Linked DNA regions of Homo sapiens: region 2 is linked to region 1. The links come from fine-mapping of genetic effects on gene expression. A gene starts in region 1. The other region holds a variant in brackets. All regions are shown on one strand. Distances are from middle to middle. Region 1 holds the start of ARHGAP18 (Rho GTPase activating protein 18). Region 2 overlaps ARHGAP18 (Rho GTPase activating protein 18).

Evidence for each region. PIP is the estimated chance that this variant, and not a neighbour inherited with it, causes the effect.
Region 2: its variant is fine-mapped to the expression of ARHGAP18 in whole blood (INTERVAL, PIP 0.91).

The regions. Positions count from the first base shown.
Region 1 is chr6:129,705,055-129,715,635 of GRCh38, reverse strand. ARHGAP18 (Rho GTPase activating protein 18) reads left to right here and starts at 5,459. Exons shown (of 15, transcript NM_033515.3): 1 at 5,459-5,612. The coding sequence starts at 5,500. RefSeq lists a silencer at 5,106-5,185.
Region 2 is chr6:129,589,514-129,600,094 of GRCh38, reverse strand. It overlaps ARHGAP18 (Rho GTPase activating protein 18), which reads left to right. Exons shown (of 15, transcript NM_033515.3): 12 at 739-879. Among named protein-coding and RNA genes, the nearest start is that of ARHGAP18, 120 kb to the left of the region's middle. RefSeq lists an enhancer at 937-1,231. The variant A/G (reference allele first, on the strand shown) is at 5,833.

The DNA of each region.
Region 1 (10,581 bases):
AGGCCTCATCCAAGGCTCCATAGCTAACAAATTCTATAAGCTTTGGGTTCCGCACATCGAATCTGCTTTTTTAAGAAAAAAAAATTCATAATCATAGTGATCAGAGTACTTTTTTTCACTTCTATCAGTGGAAACAATTTTAGATATGATGGCACAATGATGATGACCTTTTAGACTAGTGTATATATTATGCCACACTACCCCAATAATTTGACATAAAAAAACAAGTTTCAAAGTACCAGAAAAGAATTGAGTGTAAATCTCCATAGCATTGTATTTATATCAATATTCCATTTGATTAAGGACCTTAGGTTTGCTGTAGATTATTTAACTTTGTTATTCATATGATTCTTTTCAGAAATAAAATGATGTCAATTCTAGGACTGCTGTAACCTTTATAATGCTTAAGAGCTCAGGCTCCAAGGTCACATAAACCCAGGTTTACATGTCCTGGTTCTGCCACCTACTAACTGGATGACCTCATATTCCTCATCTCTAAAGTGAGCGTAATTCCAATTTCTATCCCTGGTGGTGATTGTGATGATTAAATGATAGACCATGTATACCATGTCTAGCGAAGAGTAAGGACTCAATATTAGCTATTGTTATTTATTGGTAATAAACTATTTGTAAGAAACATCTTTTCTAAATGATTGCCGAAAAGCCTAAATTAGCCTCTGGCAATAGCAGTTACAAATTATCCCAAGCATGGCTAGTATTTTCTCGCAGGAGGAGCAGTTAAGAAAATAACTTTGAGAATAACGTAGACATTTTTAGAGCTGTCCAGAGAAAGGGAAAAGGGTTATTTCTTGTTGTTCCAGAGACAGAATTAATAACAATGAGTGTAATTCCCAAGGAAATAGTTTGAGATTCTGTATATGGAATAATTTTCAGTCATAGTACCCTAGCACAGAGGTAGCTAACTTTGTAAGCTGACAAGAACTATTCCTACGAGGTCCTGATAAAACATGAGGTAAGGGATGTTAAGAACTCTTCCTCTTCATTAGTCAATCCTGCTTCATATGTCTAGCCTTTATCACCTATGTAAAACTTTAACTTCACAGTTGATTAATTTATTCAAGTTCTTGTTATAATATTGAAAATTGGGTTTAATTTTACCATTTGGAAGGTCATTTTCACATGGCTTTTGTCCCTATGTAGATTTTCATCATCATATAGAGATTGTGTGTACATATTCTCCTTTAATTCTTTTTTTTTTTTTAAGAGAACTAGACCAATTCAGGAAAAATTTGATAAATTATATGCTGATTCCATTGCATGGCACTCTTCTAATACAATTCCTTCTAATACTAAATAGGCTCCTAAATCAACATATAAAAACCAGCTAATAAACTCTTTGCTACCACTAGCACTGAACTGAAGAAAAATTTTTTCATTGTTTTTGAACATGGGTGTCAAATTGTCAGAGACTGCAGTACCATCTTCACCCTATTTTTAACAACCTATTTGGGTACATAAATTACCGCTTCCTTTTCCTTTCCTGTGTCATCTAGTACACCTCATTTAAACAGAATGAATGAAATGAATGTTTAAACTGTCTTGATGTTGTTAATTACTTTTTAAGATGTTTCATAACAGGAAAGTGTTTGGCACGCACTCAATAGCTGGGAATATTAACATCTTCAAGGTCATGAGGTTCTCAGTGTGTGTTTAAAATGGTTGCGGAAAGGAGTAAAAAAGTGTTTTGTTTTTTTTCATAATATTTGTCTCTGCAAAAGAGCGATAATGGTATAAGGGATGGACATGAGCTAAACCTTAGTACAGTTTACAGTGTGAAATAAGAACAGGTTTTTTTTTTTGTTTTTGTTTTTGTCGTTGTTTTTCTTTTTTTCTTTTTCTTTTTTTTTTTTTTTTTTGAGACGGAGTCTCGCTCTGTCTCCCAGGCTGGAGTGCAGTGGTATGATCTCGGCTCACTGCAACCTCCGCCTCCTGGGTTCAAGCAATTCTCCTGTCTCAGCCTCCTGAGTAGCTGGGATTACAGGTGCCCACCACCACGCCACCCGGCTAATTTTTGTATTTTTTAGTAGAGACGGGGTTTCACCATGTTGGCCAGGCTGGTCCTGAGCTCCTGACCTCAGGTGATCCACCTACCTTGGCCTCCCAAAGAACAGCTTTTTAAGAGACCACACTGGTAGTTAGGTTTGCTTCTTTGATGACATGGGAAAATTCTGAAAACTGTTTTTAATCTACTTGAGCATGTATCTGAGGCTATGAACACCAGGCCACAGTCCTACCAGCTCTCTGCCTGTGATAGGTAATACCCTTCGACCAGTAGCAACAGGGCTTGGTGGGAGGAAAGGAGAAAAAGCTCAGAGGATTTTCAGGTATTTGAGAGCTAAATTAGAAGGATTCAAATTTTATGTACTAAGCTATGTAAATCAATTTGTATCACATTTGGTTTTCTGCCTCACAGAAATTAAAAACGGTGGATATTGCAAACCCAAATATTATTTTGACATTGTAAAACAATTACATTTCAACCTGTACATTGTGATTTGTTATTAAACAAGTGAAAAGACCATAATTAGGCAAAAATATAACTAAATAATTGTTTTGGCTATAACTGGACAAAATCTTCATCGCAAACTGTCACATGAGAGATGCAGTGCCCGTGGCTGCCAATGGGCATGGATGACATTGACAGGCTAAAGACATAGCAAAGGAAGAAGGAAAACTAGAAAAAAAAGGAAGATAATAAAAAGGGAGGTAGAGGGAAGTAAGGGGGGAGAAAAAGGTGGGAGGGAAACAGAAAAGAATTTCCAAAAGATAATGTAGTGATTACCATCAATAATTGTATAAGATAGTGATTCCCATATGTTTGCATTTCAGAGTAGCTACATAAAAAAGGAGGGGTGGATGAGCTGGTTATTAACATTTTTTCCATGTAAGGACACTGAAAAGACAAAACACATATATTCTAATTTACTTTAATCTTTGCCTCCCTCTCTTTATAGTTTTTGTTTTGCCTGAACTGATGAACATTTCCTCATAGGTTAGCACTGGTATGTGCATGGGAACCGCTTATCTAATATTACCAATTTTAATATAAAGATTTAGTAGAGTTGGCCGGGCGCGGTGGCTCATGCCTGTAATCCCAGCACTTTGGGAGGCCGAGGTGGGCGGATCACCTGAGTTCGGGAGTTCAAGACCAGCCTGACCAACATGGAGAAACCCAGTCTCTACTAAAAATACAAAATTAGCCAGCGTCGTGACACATGCCTGTAATCCCAGCTACTCGGGAGACTGAGGCAGGAGAATCGCTTGAACCTGGGAGGTGGAGATTGTGGTGAGCCGAGATCATGCCATTGCACTCCAGCCTGGGCAACAAGAGCGAAACTCTGTCTCAAAAAAAAAAAAAAATTTAGTAGAGTTTTAAAGGATACTTTCAATTCATTCAGGTTTTCCTCCATTCAGTGTTTACTGAAGGCTCAGTAGGTACAAAATTTAAGTTAGCTGTCAGATGAAGAGAAAAGAATCATAGTAGGACCTGAAAAGATTGTGTCTAGCAGATGGAAAGACTTGTATGTATAAGGTAGCAGGAATGCCCAGTGATCTGCTCAAAAGCCTGGAACTGGCTCTGTTAGCAATAGAGAGCCAATGAAGGTTTTTAAGCGAGGAGAGGGATCATGAGTGCCAGGGTGTGATCATAATGTCAAAGCAATTTAAAGGAGGTGACAGGGAGATGAGCTAAAAGGGCTGTTGTAATATTGGAGCTAAGACTGCATTATAGGATCCAGAGGTGGTTGAGGTCATGGGGATAAAAAGGAGACAGCAAGTAAAGTCCTATGGAAGTGGAAATGGGAAGGTTGAGCAGTTGTGCAGGGGGGAGGGAGGAAGATATAAATTCCTTTTAAGGAAGACTTTTGTAAATTATAAGAAAGAGGGTTCAAAAATAAATTTCAGATACTTCTAGAGTATGTAAGGAGGAAGAAATTATTTTTCATGACTGTTTTAAATAATGATAAGGTATAAGCAATAAGTTTATGTAATGATGGAATTGGAAACTTGTTCAAGAGGAATTCTAGAGAGTTGAATGAATCATAAAAATCTAAAAAAACCTTCAGACTACTGGGTATGTCAGAGTAGAAGCCAGGCGTGGTGGCTCATGCCTGTAATCTCAATACTTTGGGAGCTTGAGCCAAGAGGATTGCTTGAGCCCAGGAGTTCAAGACCAGCCTGGGCAACACAGTGAGACCCTCCCTCTCCACAAAGCATAAAAAAATTAGCTGGGCGTGGTAGTGCATGCCTGTGGTCTTAGCTATTGGGGAGGCTGAGGCTGGAGGATTTCTTGAGCCTGGGAGGTTGAGGCTGCAGTGAGTTACAATCACCACTGTACTCCAGCCTGGGTGACAGAGTGAGACCCTGATTCAAAAACAAACCAAAAAAGTGATTTTTTTTTTTGGAGGGGAGATGGGGAGAAAGAACAGAGCTGTCTTTTGTGTTTATGATAATTTTGATCTTGTTTCTTAATCTGCAAAACAAAGAAGAGCATACTGGTGAAAAATAAAAGGAATGTAGCCTAGAATTCTGTTCAAATCCAGCTTCTGGCACTAGCAACTGTGTTATCTTAGTGAAGTTACTTAACTCGTCCCTCAGCCTTACTTTCCTTGTGTTATGTATAACACAGATGATAGTGATACCTATCTTGTACGGTGTGTGTGTGTGTGTGAGAGAGAGAGAATTGAATGGAATGAGATAATACATGTGAAACCCCCGTCCATGAGAGCTTGGCATATAGTAGGTGCTCAACAAATGGCAGGGACTTCTCTTGTTCTCAGCAATAACACTTAACAGAGCATTGGTAGGTCTATCCCTTTTTGGTGCTGAAAAATATTTTGCTAAAACAAGACGTATATTTGAGATTGGCTTTATGTGAAAGACGACGACATTCCAGGACACACAATTTTTATGAGGGCATTTTTAACCGGACACAAGGATCAAGCCTTTCTCGTCGTCTGGATTGCAGAGTTTTGCCGCGGGTTCGTTGTTTTTTACTATGGCTAATTTTAACGCTGAACATGAAGGGGTTAAGAAATGCCTTTACTCATGTTACATTAAGTAGCAGAAATTATAAGATAGAGGAATTGGGGAGGGAAAAAAAAAAGCCTTGGCAGCAACTCATGGTTTCCTAAGTAAGACGGCTTGTAGTTACAGTGATGAGTTGAATATACGTTCTGGCAGTTTAATCTGATCAGACTAACTTGGGGGTGGGTGCAACCCGTCGCTTCCACCCTTCGCCTCCTTTAACCAAAGCCGCCCAGAGTGCAATTGTCCAGAGTTGAAACCATGCTGTGAGTTGCAGCTTCTAATTGGAGAGGCAGGAAGCCCTTCCCTGGACAGACCCCGCCCCTCCCCGTGTGAATCGCCAGCCTGCGGGGAGGAGCTGGCCAATGCTAATGAGCGAGTTGCCAGGCGAGACAGGAACTTCTTTCCCCTTCTCTGTGTCAGGATCGCAGAAAGTATGTCCCTTCTCTCACCATGAGCTGGCTCTCCAGTTCCCAGGGAGTGGTACTAACAGCCTACCACCCCAGCGGCAAGGACCAGACCGTCGGGAACAGCCATGCAAAGGCAGGGGAGGAAGCCACCTCGAGGTAAGCCTTCGGAAGCTGAAAACAAAACAAAACCCTCTTACCTGCTCCAGGAAGAAAGTGACAGGGAAGTTGGCGTGGGGAGAAGGGAATTCCATCTGCACGTCGAGCCTGAGCTCGTGCAGCAGCAGTAGCAACGTTTGGCGTGATTTTTATGTACTTTTCATCTCACCTAGTCCAAGTCTGAAATAACCCATATGATTACTGGTGAAGACAGAGAAGAAGGAACTGGGGAGAGGGCTATATGGGCTGTCAGACTAGCTATTTAGCAGGTGCATTTGCACATGCTGAAAGATCAAATAGGTCTATCTGAAACACTTCCTTTCCTATGAAATGGAATTCTTGAATGGGCTCAAGGCACTGCCACTGGAACTGTTCGCTGGGAAAGTCTGCCAAAAAGCAGGGAGGCTGTTCACTGTACTGTACAAGCTGTTGTTGTTAGAGTGTTTTTTTTCCCCCCTCTCTTTGCTGAAAGCAAACCTCTTAGGCAAAAAGCCCAAGACACTGGCCTGTGGCAATATGTTTCACATTCTTTTGTGTATGTGGATTTTTTTTCCCCCAGGCTTTCAAAAAGGAGTTTTTGTCAGGAGATAGCACTCTGCTGCTGGAGTGAAATGTGGTTAATGTTAAATCACTTTATAGGCAGAGAGGGCAAATGTTCTATAGACCACTGAGGCGCAAAGGGTACCTTTCTCCCTATCTGTGTACTTTGTTCCATTTTCCAAGGGCTTTTTTTTTTCTTTCTCTCCTTAATGACCTTCTCACTAGCTGAACATTTTTACCTCCATCAAGATATAAATAGTAAATATTGGCCTAGAAGATTGCAAGAAGCAAATACTAACCTAATAGCCTAGAACACTAAATTAGTTATCGGTAAGCACATTTCCTCCTCAATGCTTAATGTGATAATAAAACCTTCTTTGTTCTTATGTGACTTATGCCTGTGCCTTAAGCTGAAATAATGCTGCCTTTCATTTGTTTTAAAATCTCCAAATATGAGGGAGGGAGAAAAATCAAAGGAATGGCTGTAATACTCAGTGTTAGACTCCCAGCTGACGGGAACTGTTTCTCACATAGCATCCACAGTATGTATTTCATTGAATGAATTCATTTCCAAAGATAAAAAAGATTTGGTGCTTGTGCCTTAGCTGTGTTACCATTTCATTTTCCATCATTTTAAATGACTTAATGTTAAATCATTAAATCAAGAGATCTTGAAGTGTTTTCATCCATTTTTCTGTAATGTATTAGTAATCATTAAGCAGTAAAGCAGCCTGCAACACCAACCCCATACCCAGCCATAACTTGGATTCCACATGTCAGTCAAAATTGCCAAAATTATACAAGCTCAGGACATTCTCCGACTTTAGGCTGAATGGCCTGAGGACCTGAGCTGAATCTTGGATCTTGATTGTGAGAATGGAAAGGACCTTAAGGACTGAGTCCTAACCTCTCATTTTCACGTAGGACTCAAACCCCAGGGATTAGTTAAGTTTTTGGAAGGTCTGGAGTTCTAGGCCTTTGTCTGGGGCTGCATCTCCAGTTCTGGAGACTCATTATTCTGTGTTTGCAGTGTGGGTGGCCCATACTTGAGTGGGTTGAGAGAATAAGAGAGGATCAGATCATTCTCTGCCTAGGCTGAAGCAGAACCAAGAGGCACTAAGGTGGCAGGGTGGGCAGCTGCCCACACGGCAAGTGCCCTGTGTGGGGCCACAGCTCCAGGTGAGCTCCTTTGCTGGCTGTCACGTAGCCTGCCCATACCAGACCCAACTTCCCACCACTGAATTAGTTCTAGGGATCGTTCCTGATATTGACCGGAGAAGATGGGAGCCTGGTTTGAGGGCAGGGAGGAAGGAGGGAGTAGGGCTAGTTTTCAATGGCTTTTACCCTTAAGGGCTAACGAATCAGATAAACTTGTTGTTGTTTTGGGAGATACCCTGTTTAGCCTGAAAGGATTGAGATACTGTAATTGCTATGGGGGAGGGGATGGATAGAAGGAAGGAGGATTTGAAGGTGGGATGGGGTCCTCGGTGACCACCTAAGAATGGTGATAGTGGTTTCGGGGCGGTGAACTGGACTTTGGCTTTGGCTTTGGCTGGGTTGGTCAGGTGTTGTTTTAAGCCCTGGGAAGCTGCTCCAAGGTGCAAGGTTGATGGTTGATGCCTATTTAAAGAAGTTCTCCAAAAAGTAAAAACAAAACAAAACTCTTAAAAAGGCTACATTAGGCTGGGTGTGATGGCTCACACCTGTCATCTCAGCACTTTGGGAAGCTGAGGTGGGTGGATTGCTTGAGCTCAGGAGTTAGAGACCAGCCTGGGCAAAAAAAAGACCCCCGCCCCCACAGCTCTACCAAAAATACAAAAAAAAAAAAAAAAACAAGAAACCACAAACAAACTAGAAATGGTAGTGCATGCCCGTGGTCCCAGCTACTCAGGAGGCTGAAGTGTGAGGATCACTTGAGGCTGGTGGAGCAGAGATTGCAGTGAGCTGAGATCACGCCACTGCACTCCAGCCTGGGTGAGGGAGTGAGACCCTGTCTCAAAAAATAAATAAATAAATAAAAAATAAAAGCTAAATTAGATTCTGCATTTCCTCCTACCCATTTAAAAATTATAGAAGATAGCACGGAAGTATAACTTTTCTTATCACAAGATTTTGTCTGTAAGTAATATGTTCTTTGAAATATTTAATCCAATATTTAGTTCATGAGATGAATTCATGTCTTTATAATGCCATTTATACATATGTGTATGACTTAGCGTATTTATTGAAAATTGTTTCCTTTTTTTTTTCGAGATGGAGTTTTGTTCTTGTTGCTCAGGCTGGAGCACAATGGCGCACTCTTGGCTCACCACAACCTCTGCCTCCCAGGTTCAAGCTATTCTCCTGCCTCAGCCTCTATAGTAGCTGGGACCACAGGCATGCACCACCACGCCTGGCTAATTTTGTATTTTTTTTTTTTAGTGGAGTCGGGGTTTCTCCATGTTGGTCAGGCTGGTCTCGAACTCCCGACTTCAGGTGATCTGCCCACCTTGGCCCCCCAAAGTGCTGGGATTACAGGCATGAGCCACTGCGCCCAGCCTGAAAGTGTTTGATTTTTAGCCTAGCCATACCAAGTCTTTTTTTTTTTTTTTTTTTTTTGAGACAGAGTCTTACTCTGTCACCCAGGCTGGAATGCCGTGGCACGATCTGGGCTCACTGCAACCTCCGTCTCCAGGCTCAAGTGATTCTCCTGCTTCAGCCTCCCAAGCAGCTGGGATTACAGGCGAGTGCCACCACCCCTGGCTAATTTTTGTATTTTTAGTAGAGACGGGGTTTCACCATGTTGACCAGGCTGGTCTCGAACTCCTGACCTCAGATGATCTGCCCACCTCATCCTCCCAAAGTGCCGAGATTACAGGCATGAGCCACTGCACCCGGCTCCATGTCCTTTTTTATTACCATTTGGTCTTTTGAAAAGCTGAGATAGTAGGGAATTAATATTTTTGGAAGTAATTTGTTAGCTAAATTTTCTCCATTCCATTATCCCTCTTTATCAGAAAACAGTCATTGAATGTCAGATTAAGGAATTCCTCCCACTCCTGGTTAGAGCCTCTCCCTTTATAGAATCCTGTTTTTCTTTTGTATGTTTCCTCCTCAAAACATGAGGATTTGAAGAAATATGTTAACATTAGTTGTCATGGCCGACTTGTACACAGTTGAATGTTTCCAAAGGAAACCACTTTTTATGAGTAGCTATATTTATAAGACTTTGTTTACTTGTTTTTCAAGCAGGCTTCTTAATATTTAGTTTTGAAAAGAATTTTTTCGAAGAATATTGTGTTTTGTCTATTCTTACTGTTCTCTCTTACCTTCCCATTTTAAGAGAAATGGTTGTTTGCTTTGCATATTTTTTGCTAATATTTTAATATGAATGTCAAGTAACCTTTTTTATTGGGCCTTTTAATTCCTTAGCTAACTGAATGGACTGATGAGTGAGATATTTTTATGCCTTCTCTGAATAAATGTATGGCATTCATCATGTAAGGTCTTGTTGACCCAACTTGCCATTGGTATTGGGTAGGCAGAAACAAGAGGCACTACACAGGGGTGACATAAACCCAGAAACCCTGGGTTCTGGGGCCAACCTGTCTGGGGTCATATCCCAGCTCTCTCATTCATTAGCAGTGTGACCTTGGAGGAGTTATCTCTCTACCCATAAATTGAACTTCATAATATTACTCACCTGATTAAGACAACTGAGTGGGATGACCTCTGTCAAGCCCATAGAAGAGTGTCTGGTTTGTAGCTAGCTGCTACTTTCCTTAATACTAGGTAAAGAAAAGGAAAGAAAGGATTGAGTTTTGCAGGATATAGAATATTCTCCCTTGTTTCAGAAGCGTTTTTCTGAATATTATTTTGTCATGTGTTAAGAAACATGGGCATTATCCATATGCTTAAAAAATGACATATTTGAGAATGAACCATAATGTAAAAGTTTAGGCCTTTGAAGTTTGAAAGACCTTGGAAATATCATCCTGATCCATAGCACCATTTATGATTTGAACTGGTAACAATTGCCTATACCAGGCCTTTCTTGGGGGGTATTGATGGGCATTGAGGTCTGCAAATATTGACTCTATGGCAAGATAGAATGTGGGTGGATCCTCTTTTGGCAGCTGGACTCACTCCTGTCTCCATGCTTCCTTCCTCTGCTTTAAGAACTACTACTGCCCAGCATGCCAAATGGAAGAGGACTATCATCTTTATAAGCTTATCTCAGTTCTTGACTTGTTCATGTCTCACCCATTCCTTGGTTCTGCAAGCATAATCATTCAGTCATTCCACATATAAGAGCTCTCTCTTACTGTGTGTCAGGCAATTGTTTAAATACTGGGGTTGTAATGGGGGGAAATAAACCAGACAAACATCTGGGTGCAGGGAGGGTAGCCTGGAGGGGAAAATAAAGACCTGAGCAGGTGACAGGTGAGCC
Region 2 (10,581 bases), 120 kb after region 1:
ATTTCAATCTCTTATTTGAGGAGCTTCCAAACATTAATTTGTTAAAAAGACAGAGTGATGATATTTAGATCCTGAAGTCTTTATTTTTATAATCCATAAAAAGACAACTGATGTAGATGATTTCAAATGTGTTTTTTTAATAAAAAATTAATGTCCATTTATTAAATCTCAATGTTTGAAATGTCAAAATTATTTCATGGTTACATTTTGATACCTTAAAATATTTTGTTTTTGCTAATGTGATTTCTTAGGATAAATTTGTTCTGGATTTTTGCTAGCTACCTATCAGCTCTTGTTTCTTGGGGAGTTCTTTCTCTCATGACAGCAGCGGCTAGCTGGTTATTAGAAGGGGACTTGAGGTTAGCTAGCAGGGCTGTAGGTAGGAGGCTGCAAAAGGAAAGACCTACGGAGGTGGCTTCTACTGCTCGTCACCTCAGGGGGTCTCCAGTCTGGCATAGAAAACGGCCACTATGTCCTTGAACTTCACAAAGCCTCTTTTGGAACCTTCCACAGTGGGTGGCAAATTATACCACGTGGATGCCCTGTACACCTGGTAAGTGAATAATATGAAGTATTTTCTTTTCACAGATTTAATGAATAGTGCATGTAAAATGGCAGTCTTATCAAAAAGAGAAACTCTTTACTGTTTTTGAAATTTAAAAAAATATAATTTTTTTTTGTAGTTTAAAATGGTGGCATTTCTTTTTCCTCTCTAAGCTTAATTCCTTTTCTCTATAGATTCCCAAGTTTATTGTAAACCAAGTGAGGAAGCAAAACACGGAAAATCATAAAAAGGATAAAAGAGCCATGAAGAAATTGCTGAAGAAAATGGCTTATGACCGAGAAAAATATGAAAAGCAAGATAAGAGTACAAATGATGTAAGAAAATAGTGGAGATATGTATTTATTCAGATCTTAAGTATTTTTTTAATACCAAAATTTTTTATTTAATGTTTTCATAGTATGACTTTCTGCCACTTATTAGGCTGTGGTGCTACTTGTAAGTGAAAGACATCAGTAACTGTCTTCCTACTACTGCTGCTAATGATCAGTATTGACAGTTGGTCAGGTGTTGGTGACTCAGCATGTGAGTTGTTAATGGGGAACAAAGGAAGATATCAAGACAAGACTGAACACACACACACACACACACCCCTACACCCCTACCCCTACCTCTACCTCTCGTGCGGAGACTCTAGTCGCCTACTGAATATATAATCTATAGTGAGTAAATAACATCATGTGAACCACTGACATTTTTTTCTAAATTTTTCTCATCTGTAGAATGGGGAAAAATAACTAATCCAGATGGACAAATAGGTTAATGTTTGTGTTGTGCCTAGGATTATTCCTGGACTTTAATAAGTATTTGAAGGTTCTCAATTTGATCAGAAGAATTTTGAGAGCTAAATTGGAAAGAAAAAAATTAAGATGTTTCAAAAAAGAAATACCTAAATATCTGTATTTATAAACTACTGTAAGAGTATATTAAGAACTGGGTTTACAATAATAAAATATACATGGATATACATTTATGAAGTAAGTTACCAAAGCTGTAGCGTAAGTTCATGAAATGAAAGGGTTTCTATTGTTCTATTTAAGTGAATCCACCTCCTCCCTACTACCACCACCATTGAAGTTGTTCAGTTACATGCTGACATCTTGTGGAATAATGTGAAAATGCAGTTATCTGCCTTTGTCTGAATTTTCGGTTTTGGCCTGCTTATGGATCCAGTAATCATAAAAACGAAGTTTTTCTCTTAGATTTATTTATAGCTCTCACTCTTAAAAAATGATACTTTCTTGGCATTGTAAAACATTTTAAATCAAGTTTTAAATATCTTTAAAAACATAAAGAGAAGTTGTAAATATGCTTATTTTTTTAGAAAGGCCTTGATATTATCCTAAAGGCTTTTAGAAAGCCTTTTTTTTTGGCATTTGGTTAACTTTAGAATGTTCTGTTACCTCTAAGACCATTGTAAATATGTGAATTAAGTCTGTTTTGTAGCCCTTCTTATTCATATTAAGTGACTTTATAGTCTTGTCTTTTTATAGGGCATTTAGCTGTGATATTCTGAAGCTCAGGATCTACTTAAGGAAACATTTGGGGTGTACCTTTTAAATAATATTTAGAAAAACTGAAACGTTTACTTTTTGGAAATGGAATATTTTAGTAATTTTGTCATTTATGGAAAAAAAAGCATTAACTTCTTTAGTTTGCACTTTGGCATAGTTAGACATGATCTGGTCTGAGAATGATCTCTGTACTATTTAAAAACTGTATTGTCATTTTAAAGCTTGGGATTTAAATATCAGTTTCATCACATATTAGCTGTAACTTTACCTCTTTGAGTTTTTTTTTTTCTTTCCTTATGTGAAATTCAGTTACTCATCAACAAAATGCTATTGCCACCTTGGTGCTAGGCCCCCACTTTATGTTAGGTGTTCCCAGGGAGTCAGGGAGCTGGGTGCTCACCCTCGAGGAGCCAGGAGAAGGCATATAGAAGGGATGTAGCTCAGAGGTATGTGATTGAAGCCTGACCAGGGTACCGTAATCTACAAAACAGGAAGTAAGCATGAGAGAGGCTTCACTGGGGAGTCAAGCTGAGATGTGAAAAATAAATCAGTGTTGTTCAGGTGTCACTAGAGAAGAGCCATCTAACCTGCAGTGGAAGCTTTCTGACATCACAGCCCATGGTGGAGGTCTGTTTGGCCTGTCATTTTGGTAGAAAAATTCTCATCTCCAGCCTGGCCAAGACAGTGGAACCTCATCTCTGCTAAAAATATAAAAATTGGCTGGACGTGGTAGCACACACCTGTAGTCCAGCTACTTGAGAAGCTAAGGCAGGAGAATCGCTTGAACCTGGGAGGCAGTGAGCCAAGATTGCGCCACTGCACTCCAGTTTGGGTGACAGAGTGAGACTTCATCTCAAAAAAAAAAAAAAATTCTAATCAATAGCCAAAATTTAAAAAAAAAATTATGCCATTTTATTAGGGAGAGTAAATAGACACACAAAGCAATTACAGAACAAGTAGAGGTGCAAGCTAAGTTCAAATACTGTGGATATGTGGTAAGTTACTAAGTAACAAGAGTTTTTTGCATGTTGCTTCCAACTGGCAACTGCCAGAATTCTAAAGCTAAAACATTTAATGTGAAAGTTTGAACCACCGTCTTAATGACAAATGGATGTTGGGGCATCCCTCATCTTCTGGCAGTAAGAGGCCTGCTTTCCATCAGGGTAGCAATTCCCTGGATTTGAGTAGGAGCCGTTCCTTTTGCATGGAACATGGACCATCTACTTTGCTGTAAGCCATGCCCCCTCCTTCATTCTGTCTGGTTGCTGTAGTTTCTTGACTCTCCTCCAAATCATTTAAATATGCAATATGAAACTATAGGGCATGAAATTGCCTGGGGGTAGCTTTTGTCATTTGTTAAACAGTTACTTGATATGTGCCTACTGTGTGCCAGGAATTACTGGGTACTTGAAATATAAATTATTGGACAAAACATACAAAGATCACTGCTCTTCCAGAGCTTAAATTCTAAAAATAAAAGTAAATCTAGGAAGTAATTCATATAATGTGTTAGTATGTGATTTATCCTCCAAAAGTAATAAAAACAACAGAACAAGGGGAATTGGGAAGGAGATCCCCTGGCACTATTAAGTTGAGATGGTCTGGATATTATTCATTTAAGCAAAGACAAGAAGAAGGGCAGGGAGTTGAGTTGTGTGTATATCTCAGGAAACTCAGTCCAGGCAGAAAGAATAGTCTGTGAAAAAACCTTAAGACAGGAACTTACCTTAAGGAGTGAGTGTAGCTGGAGTGAAGCCAGCAGAGGGAACGGTAGTGTGAAATGAGGTCAGAGGGGCAATGGGGCAAGATTGCATAGGGCCTTGTAGATAGACCATCATTAGAAATTTGGATTTACTCTGAGTGAAATGGGGGTTTGAAGCAAAGGCTTGAAAATCTATACTATGTTTTAAAATGATTCCTTAGGCTGTTGTGTTGAGAATAGACTAAAAGGGAGCAAAGAAAAATAGGGAGATCATTTGGGAGGTTCTTGTAATCCAGGTAAGAGATAATGGTGGTTCAGACCAGGGTATCAGCATCGGAAAGTGGAGAAATGGTTGGATTCTGGATTTTGTTTTGAAGTTAGAGCCATTGAGATTTCCTGATGGAAATCATGTAGGAGAACAAAAGAGGTCAAAAATGACTCTGATTTTTGGCCTGAGAAATTGGAAGGATGGTATTGCTTTCAATTTCATGATTTCAATTTAGGACATATTGAGTATGATGTCTATTGGACATTTAAGTGGGGATATTTGAAATGTTTGGAGAGAAAATCAGGTCATACTAACTGGCCACTTAGGTGCATAGAGAGACAGGGGCAGAGGGAAAGCAGGAGTGAGCCTTAAGAGAGATTGATAGCAAAGTTTCTATTCTGTGCATGACAGGGAACTGCTGAAAGGTGAAGGAAAGATTTGAGGGAGTGTAAGATTGGAGGGTAGGTAGGAGATGGTAGGTAATTTCCTTGTTGATGGGAGTATATAAATTGGTAGAGTTCTTCCAGAGAACAGCAGCATGTGGCAAAGTCCTGAAAGCCATGCTCTTCACTGGACTCAGATATTCCTCCAAAGAGAGTAATAGCATGAACATGCAAATATTTATGGTTAAGTTCATTGCCATTTTCTTACACTGACCAAAATTAGAGATAATCCAAAAGAACAGAGGTGGCTAGTTAAATACATTATGGCATATCTATACAGCGAAATACCATGAAAGTGTACAAATGTGTATCTTGACATTGAAGAGATTCGTAATATGTTACTATGTGATAAAAGAAGTTACGAGTCAGTGAATGGTGTAGTGCTATATTTTTAGGGGGTAATAGCTATGATTTTAATGCTTTGCAGAGGTCAGACACAATGCTAAACATTTTACAAATATTGTCTCGTAATATTTATGGTAGTCTAATTGGGGTGTATTATTGTCTAATTTTTTTCAGATGAGGAAAGTGAGAATTAGCAATCTTAAAGTTACTAAGGTTATCTAGATAGGAATTAGTGGAGCTGGAATTTGAAACCAAATCTATATGACTTTAAATCCATGGACTCTTCACCATTATTCTCTGTTTCTCCATAGATCACAGAAGGACTCTAAGAAGGATATATACCAAAACTCTGGGCTTATGGGTGGTAATACAATGAACATGGATTACTGCTGTTATAAAATATGTTTTATATGTAGTTCTTAAAATGGTCCTGGGCTAGAGCCAAGGCCCAGTTGAGAATCGAAAGAAGTTTAGAATGTGAGCCAATAGGAACCCTGCAACATGTGGATACTGGTTGGATGTGAAGAATGTGGAAGAAGAAGGGAATCTAGAATGACTTGCCAAATTTGGCCTTGGGTGACTTTAGCATCAAGCAAAAGGGGGACAGACTTAAAAGTGAGTTTTTGACACTTTGGGTTAACGTGCCTGTGTGAGTCGGCTACAGGGGCCTGAATTTCAAGGAGCATCCAGCATTGGAGGCACACCTTTGGGATTAGCCTAGAGATTGTTGTTGAAGTCATAGAGTGGTTCATATTACACAAGGTGGATATATGGAGTAAGAAAATAAAGAGACAAAGAGAGATCTCTAGGGGATTCCAATGTTTAAGTATGGGCCATTCAAGAAGAGCTGGTGAAGGAGGCTAGGAAATAATAGGAAGTAAGAGAAAGTTGAAGGATGTATATTTTCTCTGAAGCCCAGGCAGGAAGAGTAAAGTAAGTAAAAAGAGCTTGGTTAGTAGTGCCAAATGCTGCAGAGAGACTGAGTAAGGTTAACACTG[A/G]ACAAAGGTTTTTGAATTTGAAGGTTAATTATTACTTTCCCCAAAGCATTGTCAATGGTAATTTATGGAAAAAGCTAGATTGCCAGGGATTGGAGAGTGAAAGAGACTATAGATCATAAACATTCTTCAAGGTAATATTTTTAAGAGGCTTTGACTCAATGCAGTGGCATGCACCTGTAGTCCCAGCTACTTGGGAGGCTGAACAGGAGGATCACTTGAGCCTAAGAGTTAGATGCCAGCCTGGGTAAAACAGTGACACCCCTGTTAAAAAAATAATAATTTTGTATGCTATTAAAACTAACCGTTTATAATTGGGCATTTGTATTATTAAGACGTGCTAGACTACACTAGTTAATTAATAATTTGAGCCAGGTTTTAAGATGTACTCAATTTACCTCATGAGGCAAATGTTTTTAGTGACTACAGCATACTGAGTGTTTGGTCCAAATGTAGATGTTCTTAAATACTAGTATGTCTTATCCATTAATTATAGTAGGAAGAAACAGTTGGAGGAAAAATAAGAAAATTGTAGACCATTAATAATAATCATTTTCTGATAGGCTTTAACTTGTCGGGATTGATAACACACACATCTACACCCACACATACACCTCAGAAGTCATGTGGCCTGAGGATATAGCCCCAGCTCTGCCACGAGTGAGTGTGACAAGTCATTTTACCTCTGTGGGCTTCAGTTTCTTTTATAAAATGATAGGGTAGGATCAGGTTAATGGTGTTTAACCAGAAGTTCACAATAGTGGCATCTGTAATATTTAATTTTTTAAAGGTTTGTTTATTTTTGGAGATAAGGTCTTGCTTTTTCACCCAGGCTGAAGTGCAATGGTGCAATCATGGCTCATTGTAACCTCAAAGTTGCAGGCTCAAGGGATCCTCCCACCTCAGCCTCATGAGTAGCTGGGACTACAGGCATGCATCACCATGCCTGGTTAATTTTTAAACTATTTTGTAGAGACAGGGTCTTGCTACGTTACACAGGCTGGTCTCGAACTCCTGGCATGAAGCGATCCTCCCTCCTCAGCCTTTCACACCTGAGATTACAGGTGTAAGCCACTGCACCTGGCCTGGTAATATTATTTTAGAACAAAACAAAAAGCAAACCGTGATTGGGTGACTCGCTAGACCCACTGAGTCAGACTCTCCCAGGGCAGGACTTGGGCGTGTGTATCGTCTAAAAGCTGGAAGGGTAATTCCCTCTTCCTATTGGTGTGTTTGTGTGTGTGTATGCATATGTATATTTAATTTTATCATGAAACTTTTTAAACACATACGAGTAGAAAGAATAGTACATGAGCCCCCCAAAACCTTTATCATCAACAATCGAACACATTTTTCTGATCTTGTTGCATCCTGTCTCCCACATGTTTTTTCCTTTTAGAATTTTAAAGGATATCTTATAATTACCTCAGATTGCATCTCTGCCTACTAAGAATGTAGGGGGCAGCTTTGATGAACAATTGGTTGTGATTTGTTGACTCATCCAGGCCTCAGGGTTATTGTGACTTAGGTTTGTATGATGTTTCTTCTGCCATTCAAGCTCACCTCTCAAAGGGAGGCTGTTCATTTATGAGAGTGAGGGTACAGAGTGGCTGTATGAGATTCTGTCCAAAATGCCATGCTGCTCACCACTTCTGACCTCATAGGTCAAGGAAACAAAAGGCTTTCTCTCATAGGGTTAATGTTAGTGTTAACTTGGGACATGCTAGTATCACACCCTTAATTTACCAGGGAGGAACTCAAGCTTTAGAGAGCTTACGTGACTTGCTGAAAGTTCCAGAATAATGTTGTCACATTTTAAAGTGTAGGGCTATGGATGTGAAAAAGAAATCTGTTGCTACCACTGGAAGAATCCTGGCATTGGCAGCAGTGCGGTGTAGATGCTGAGTTGTTTGTGGCCAGGGTTGCGTGCCTTTATGCACAACTCTGTTTAGAATTGCATCTCTGATTTCATTTAACAGTTCTTGCTGCAAAGCATTGTTGCAGGTATTGTTTCAAGCATCTGCTTTAGGTCTGGAAATAGTGGCTGGATTTACTTGGGGACCCAAGTGGAAAATCAGATTACAATATCAAGCACAAAATCTTATTTCTTTTTATGACATTCCCTGATTTTTAATACTGCATAAAAATACCACATTAAAAAAAAATATTAGAACTTATGTCATTGGAAATTAAATTCTTATTAACTATGGAAGTTATTTTAAGCCTTTCTTTAAAATCCTCTGAATCTGTGAGTTGGATAAAAGTTTAAGGCATTTGGATAACAAAGATCCAATTATAATTAGCACATAGTTCAAGATAGTAGCGAATTCCTTTTATATCACCACTTCCCAGTATTGTCAGTTCAGACTAGGGTGATGAATATACCATTTTAGTTTAAGATACCTTGCTAAAATGTCCCTGTTTAATTTTCTAAAATATGTGTTATATCTGGCCTTCTTTTTGAAAAAGCTGTATTTCCAATTTGCCCTTTTGAAGATAAAAAGGGTTTTCTGTAGCATAAAAAATGTCAGCTTTACATTTAAATTAGCTTTTAATGAAAAAGAAAGAGACCTCTTTTACCGGTCTGACATTAAATTTCTAATCTCTAGAGTGCAAAAATATGAGCAATGCAGTGTTTTTAGATACCTTATGAAAAAATGCTAAAATTGTTATTTAACCAGATAATAATAAAATCAGGTTTAGAAATATAAACTTCAGTTCAATATGTAAAACATGTGAAGACCATATGAGGTCATTTTCTCTATTTTAATAATCTTAGCATGCATAAGAAATTAACACTCTTGAAGTTGTAAAATCCTTTGTGACTTTTCTTTGATGGAGTGTTAGTCAAATACTGCCCTTCTCCAGTCCTGCTGTACCTCACATAACTGCAGTTCACAAGCACGCTCCTCCCCTATCTCAATGGGAAAAAAAAGCAGGAGACAGAGTGACAATTTTAGATTAAAACATGTGAAAGAGAAGGGTTATAAAGATCATACTGTGTACAGATTCAGTTATTATTATGGCTCAAGTTAAGAACAGACTGGCTTAACGATCAGGCATGTTGTATCTTTTCAAAGCTTGGCAACTCAATGTAATTAGTATAGTAATAACTTCAGTATTCGATACAGCATGATTCTAGTACTTAATAGTGGTTTTCATACACCATTTAAATGATGGCTTTGGCATAATTTATTGTTTATCATCTTTGTAAATATCATTTGGCCTTCCTTGTCAAGATATCCAGCAAAAACTTCCCAGAAACAACTTTAACTCTTTAGCTTTACCATTATATATACTGGTTAAACTCGTTTCTTCTTCAGGGATAAAGAGCATTGTATATCCATATTGAGTCAAACTCTCAATCTCTGTATTGTTGTAAGAATTTGGATGGGATGAATCACTACAGAAATAAACAAGCTGAGAAATGTTCATATCCCATAGACACACAAACCACACACACACTCTCTCTCCCTGCCGTAGAATACAGGTTCTCTAGTGGTCAGAGAATGTCAGCCTAGGAAGGTTTAATGAAAACCATGTACCATTGTTGGTTTAATGAAATGCTTTCCAAGGATATTGATATTCCAGCTCTTTGTGAAATGAGTCAAAATGACTACCGTTTGTAGCTTGGGAAGGGTTCTTGCTGAGCTCAAAGGTGGCTTAACCTCATCCTCTGCTCATTGAGGGAAAGGGATGTGGGAAATGTTTTTATTTCATAGCCAGAAGGAATCTGTAGGAGAGTACTCATGCTGCTTCCCATCTTGGCAAAAACCAGCCTGTGTACCCCATAATATGTCAATTACCTAACATTACACATATACGTGAAAACTCCCAATTGCCCCCAGAAGCTAGTATCTTGGGACTCTCTATTAAAACTCTTAACTATCAGAAAGATCCTAGATTCCTGGGTCAGATGTGGTGCTTTCTGTGCAAGTCCTTTTACCACCCTGAACTCAACACCTCATTTCATAAGGAAGCATGGCATGGTCATACTCCCCAAAGCTATGGTACCTGAGCTCATTTAGAAAGCATTAAGTTGTCACTCAATATTGAGGGTCAACTTGATTGGATTAAAGGATGCAAAATATTGTTCCTGGGTGTGTCTGTGAGGGTGTTGCCAAAGAAGATTAATATTTGGGTCAATGGACTGGGAGAGGCTTGGTGGGCACCATCTAATCAGCTGCCAGCATGGCTAGAATAAAAGCAGGCAGAAGAAAGTGGAAAGAACAGACTTGCTGAGTCCTCTGGCCTTCATCTTTTTCCTGGCTGGATGCTTCCTGCTCTGGAACATTGGACTCCAAGTTCTTCAATGTTTGGACCCTTGGACTTACACCAATGGTTTACCAGGGGCTGTCTGACCTTCAGCCACAGACTGAAGGCTGCACTGTCAGCTTCCCCACTTTTGAGGTTTTGGGACTCGAACTGGCTTCCTTGCTCCTCAGCTTGCAGATGGCCTATTGTGGGACTTCACCTTGTGATCGTGTGAGTCAATACTCCTTAATAAACTCATCTATGCTATGAGTTCTGTCCTTTTCAAGAACCACGACTAATACAGATATTGGTACCGATAGAGTGGGGTGCTGCTATAAAGATACCTGAAAATGTGGAAGTGATTTTGGAACTGGGTAACAGGCAGAGGTTGGAACCGTTTGGAGGGCTCAGAAGAAGATAAGAAAATGTGAAAGAGTTTGGAACTAGAGACTTGGAGGACTCAGAAGACAGGAAGACGTGGGAAAGTTTGGAACTTCC